Regions from separate parts of the Homo sapiens genome. Here region 2 is linked to region 1. Evidence: fine-mapped expression QTL. Tissue or cell type: skeletal muscle. Region 1 holds a variant in brackets; the other region holds the start of a gene. All regions are shown on one strand. Distances are between the middles of the regions.

Evidence for each region. PIP is the estimated chance that this variant, and not a neighbour inherited with it, causes the effect.
Region 2: AMOTL2 starts here. The variant in region 1 is fine-mapped to the expression of AMOTL2 in skeletal muscle (GTEx, PIP above 0.99).

The regions. Positions count from the first base shown.
Region 1 is chr3:134,311,945-134,314,695 of GRCh38, reverse strand. LINC02004 (long intergenic non-protein coding RNA 2004) reads right to left here and starts at 1,120. Exons shown (of 2, transcript NR_146711.1): 1 at 1,079-1,120. RefSeq lists an enhancer at 408-981. The variant C/T (reference allele first, on the strand shown) is at 1,174.
Region 2 is chr3:134,373,382-134,376,132 of GRCh38, reverse strand. It overlaps AMOTL2 (angiomotin like 2), which reads left to right and starts at 1,686. Exons shown (of 10, transcript NM_016201.4): 1 at 1,686-1,791. RefSeq lists enhancers at 29-826, 827-1,626, 1,627-2,426.

The DNA.
Region 1 (2,751 bases):
CCCTCCGCAGGGATGAAGAGCTGGACAGCTGCCTTTTCGGAACCAGAAATCAGTACTACGAAGGGGAAGAGGAGTCAGTCAATCAGGCAAGGTGCTGAGAGACCAGCCAATGTACACAGAGCGCCTACTAGGTGCTAGGCCCCACACCAGATGCTTATGGGCATTATCTATCAGTCCCCACAATACTCCCACAGCAGCGTGCTGAGTCCTGATTCTCTTCTCACTCTTCACGGGCCACTGCTGTGCCTCTCGCAGAAGAGGGGCTCCATAGACCAACCAACATCATGAGTGGACTGAGATGGACACCCTGACCCTTACTGTGACTCAGCTGGGCCTTTGGCAGGCATGGGGAGAGGCCAGGAGCAGACTTATGCTCTGTTTGGGGGCCAATCGCAGCACAGGCTCTTCCTCTGCACATAAGGTTCCCTCTGTCTAAAATACTCTTCTCCCATCTTTTGGGCTGACTCCTACTGATCTTCCGTGTCACTCTGCAGCTTCTCCCAGGAAGCCCTCCTGGATCTCCACCCCCAATCTGTGTTATTCCTCGGTGTTCCCCCACACCCTGGGCTTCCCCCAACTCTCCCTCGGTGTTTCAGAGACTGTCTTGAGGATCAGAATGTCAGCCCCTCAAGGACAGGATGACTTCACCTCTGTGCCCCCAGAATTAATCTCAGGAACTGGCACGGAGCAGAGGCTCAGCAAATATTTGTTGAATGAGTTAAATGCTGTTAGGTATTCAGTCACTCCCTGGCCGATCAGAAAGCACCTAATCCTAAACTAGATTGTCCGCTTTCCCTCTTCTCTCCCCAGGTCTTGCCCTTCACAATGTGCCCCCTAAATGGGCACATTTTGGGATCTGAACCCTGTGCCCCTTGAGGCTGATGATGGAGAGGGGCACGTCCTATCTCCTCTTTGAGCTACTGGCCTGGCTTTCTCAGTGCCTCAGCGGACCACTGCGGGCTTCCCTCCTTTCCTCCAGCGCGACTGGTCTCGCCGCACCCCTGTCCGGTGCCTCCTGCGAGTCCCTCCTGGTCGCGGCCCTCGGGGCCCTGTCCTCCACCCGGACAGACGGACGTACCGGGGGCTTGGGGAGAGGGTGGCACAGAGCGGGCCGGCGTTCTCCAAGGAGAGGAGAACAAACTTGTGCGCTCAGAGCGCGCAGTGAACACCCTG[C/T]TCACATTCCTGCGCCGGCCGGAATGCCGGCCCGGGACCAGCCAAAGGCCGCATTCCTTGCGCCGCGGCCAGCTCGCAGCCCCGGCTCCTGCCCCGCCCCTGCCCGCCCCTACCCGCCCCCAAACCCGGCCCCGAGCCCTAGCCCTTGCGGGCGCCCCCCGGCGGCTGCCCCACTCCGCTCCCAGCCCGCCTTTTGGATCTGAGCGTCCCCTCTCCCTCTTCCCCGGGAAGCGTCCGGCTTCCCCACACTGCTGCTTCCATTTCTGCAGCCCCACTCCTCCATCGCTTTTAGTTTTGTTATTTGCTCCCAATGAAAACAGGTAAAAACCTTCCACGGCCCCTCAGAACCTTGGTGACAAACACCCCCGCCCCTGGGCGGCTTCATCTCCCGGGTTCCCCGCACCCCGCCTGGGCGCGGCCCTAGCCCTCTCTAACGCCCGCACCCCCTGGAGCTCCCGCCGGGGCTCCCGGCGCCTAGGGTCGGCTCCCACGCAGGCGCCTCGGGCCGGAGGCCCCGCTGCAGCCTGGGCCCTGCCCGCCTTGCCCAGAGGCTCTGCGGAGGGCTCAGGGAAGGAAACGCAGTCCGCCCCTGTCCCTGCGGCTCTGGGTTGGAAACTGTGAGAAAATGGGTCAAAGTGGGTCTGTAGGAGTGTCCACCCGCCCCGCCGGATAAAGCGCCGCTCCCCCGTAGTGAGGATCACGCTCTTGGGGAGAGTTGAGGCCCCAAGAAAGTCCATAACCACTGGGCTGGGGGTTTCCACGACGGTATAGAAACCACTCAGATCACACACATCAGCTGACACACACAGCTGCGCTCACGTGGAAACACCACGGAATCAAGTGAGCAAATGGACTTTTCCCTAAAGCCAGACCACAGGCCTGCGGAAGTCCCTGCCTTCCCGCAGGGACTCGAGGCGGGAGTGTGCGATGTGCGCTTGCCCCTGCAGGGGGCCTTGCCCAGATTCTTGGCCAGTGTGTGCTACCCAGGGCGGGCAAAGCATGGGCTTTCACCCATTTTCCCAGCTTGTTGACAGGGCGCTTTCTCAGTGGGAAAGGTGCCACGGCCTAACATCATTTGCGTGGGGAAATTTGCATGTTTATCAGCCCACAGACCTGTGAAGGACTCACCCTCTGGATGAAGTGACACCTGGGAACCCAGTAATGCAGCAAGGCATGCCTGGAACTTGCATTGCTCACCATCCGGAGCCGTGGTTTGTGCTGCCAGGAAAGGCGGGAAAACAGAACCCAGATTGTGATTGGCAGACTCCTGGCCTGGAGGAAGGGTGGGAAGTCAGGAGCGCTTCATGGGAGGCTGAGCCTGATGGCCGACTTGCCTTGCTTGGTTGGTTTCGTAACCTCTGAGAGCAGGAAAATAAAATGGCTCCTTTCCTACCTGGCAGGGGTGTGGCCTGCAATATCTGGAGGTAGGCCCAGAGTGCCCAGGTGGCAAGTGGCCATGCAGCCCTGATTTGAGGTTGTAGCCCTCGCTCAAGGTCTGTCTCTTCCCCATGACACAGAAGATGGACATTCTAGACATTTTACACCACCCTGGCAGTTCATCAAATGGCAGTGCCAAGG
Region 2 (2,751 bases), 61 kb before region 1:
CACTTCTAAAATTCCTACCTACAGTGGTATACTGATCACAGCTTCTCTTCGTAAGGGGATCCTTGGAAAGACAAATATCCCGTAGCTTGGCACAAATGATCCATTTGCTCAATCATCTCAGATCCAATCACTGTTTGAAACACAGTATTTGACTTCCAAGTAAAACACACACGTGCGCACACACACACACACTTTTTGTGAGTTTTATTAAAAATTAACAATGTCCCTGGCAATTAAGCTTGCAGAATTTCCTTGTCCTTGTTTCCCTCCAGTGAATTTGGGACTTGCAAACTCCATGCTGATGGGAGGACCCAGCCAGGGGTAGAAATCAGCCCTGACTCTCTGGGTGGACAGGGGCCTGACTGCCCCCACCTCACCCCAACTGACTTGTAGAGAGGGCTTGTGTGATGGGGAACGGGGACAGCATGTGTCAGAGCGAGCTTTCTGAAGAAGGGGTTTCCATCTAGCAGTGGAAGTGTCCTGGGGGCAGAGGAGAGGATTCCATGCAGGAGCCACAGAAGTGGGTACAGGGGAAAGCCCCTGGCTGGCAGGGGTGTAGGGGGAGGTAAAGAAGAGACTAAAGCAAGGACAGGGTAAGTGGAGAGAGGAGGGCTCCCAGTGTCTGCCCTGTCCATCTAGGGAGCCTGGATTCTGATAGCCAGGGAGGGGTTTTGAGAATGAGAAACCAAGCAGCCCAGTGGTTGATTACCTGGTTCTCACTGTGTGTGACTCTGGGCACGCTGCTTAAGCTCTCTGAGCCCTGGTGTCCTCATTTACAACACAGGGATGATAACAGAACTCCGTTGGAGGGTGCTTGGCAGGGCTGAATCGGATGACTGGGCGAAAAGCCAGCGGTGGCACACCTTGCACTCTGCGTAAAGGGGCGCCTATTATCACCTTGGGGAAGAACTGGACAGAGCGCCTGGCGGCGGGTGATTCAGTTGGGTAGGTGGGTCAAATTGACCGGATTTTCCAACCCAGATTCACACTTCCTGTCGAGACGGTCGTAAAATAGCTGGCGAAGGTGTTTGTAAACAAAAGTGCATTCAAAGGTTGCCGCTGGGGGTGAAAACAGCGGGGGTTAGGGGAAAGAGGCTCTGTGGCTGGAAGCATTCACTTAGCCCGGGGCACTGTCCCAGCCCAGAGGATATGGATGTCTTTGCAGTCCCTCCTCCCTTTCCCACCTCCCCCGGTACACACACACGCACACACACACACACACACACACACAGCCGGAGTCCCCTCCCGCAGCAACCCCAGGACACGCGTGGTACAGCCCTTGCTGTCGTCCCGTCGATGGGTTTAGGGATGAAGGGTGAGAGCGGGTCGGCGACTGGGAGTGGAGGCGATAATGGGCAGAGTTGGATTAAATTGTCTCCAGCAGCTCCGAAGGCAAAGCATGGGGCAGGGGCGGACACACCGCGGCCTGGAGGGCGCTGGGCGCGGAGGAACGGAGCTCGGGGGCCGGGCCGGCGCTCGGCCAGCAGCGCCGCCTCCCCGGAGGAAGGCGGGGGCCGGGAGGAGGGAGCGGGAGAAGGCGGAGGGCGGAGGAGGGCGGTGCGCTGAGAGGTTATTTGTGGTTCGCTTTGATCCCGAGGGGGAACCTGAAACTCTCACATTCCTGGCATAGCAGCCGCCTCCGGCGCGGGCCGACCCTGGGGCTGCGCGCTGGGGCGCGAACAGCCAGAGCGTCGGCGCCACGGCCGAGAACACATCTTCGCCGCCGAGCTGAGCTGGGCCGAGCCGGAGGTTGTGGTGTCTGACTGCGCTGGGCACCCTCGGGCCGCAGCGGTAAGGAAGGCCGCTCGGCGCTCGGGAGAGCGCGCGAGGCCACAGAAACGTGCCCCAGCCAAAGCTGGAGTCTCGGCGCAACCCGGCCTTTTCCGGGAGTCGGAGCCTCGAGGATCGAGCGTCCTCGGGGCGCAGTGCGCCCTTTCGAGGCAGCCGCAGTGCCTGGCAAGGGCCGCTCTGCCCAGGGAGCGCAGCGCGCTGGGCTTTGCGGGGCTCTAGAAACGCGCGGGTCTCTTGGGGCTGGGGGAGAGGGGAGAGGGCCGACTCCGGAGACAACAGCCACAGTGTTTCGGGTTGCAGGTCGGCGGGGGTGGGGGTGGCGGGGGACAGGGATGGAGGCGCCGCTTGGAGCTCAAGTTGCAGGGTCCTGCGGGCTGATTTGGTTAGGTGGGGGTTACAGGTGCCTTTGCCCCCAACTAGTCCAAGAATTCCTCTTTGTCTTCCTTGGAAAATCCTCTCTGGAGCCACGAATTGGCCCTCACTTAGAAAGAATGCAGCCTGCTGTCCAGCCCGGTGACGTCAGCGTTAGAGTATTTGGAAAACAAAGAGGGCTCGAGAGGGAGGGAGGCGGACCCGCGATGCTTAAAGACCTCTCCGGGCCTCGGGCTACCCTCACCGGCTCGCCCCAGGCGTACCAGCGGCCACCGGTGCTCCAGGTCCGCCCGGGCTCGTGGTGGGGCGGGAGCCCTGGCTGGGGTGCCAGAACCTCCTAGCTTGGAGACTGTCTTTGGTTCCTTAGGCGAGCAGGAGCCCAGGCCAAGGCTGGAGACGCGCGCTGGCTTAGAAAGGCGGCCTTCAGAGAGCGCAGCGGGCGAGTGCAGCAGAGGTTCGCGGCCGGGGGCGCGGAAGCAGGTTTTTGTAAAGGCCCAGGCGTTTGATGTCTGAAAGGACGTGAATCTGAGGGGCTTGGCCGGGACAAATTCGCGATGAGAGGCCTTGGAGATGTTCCTTGCTCCCAGT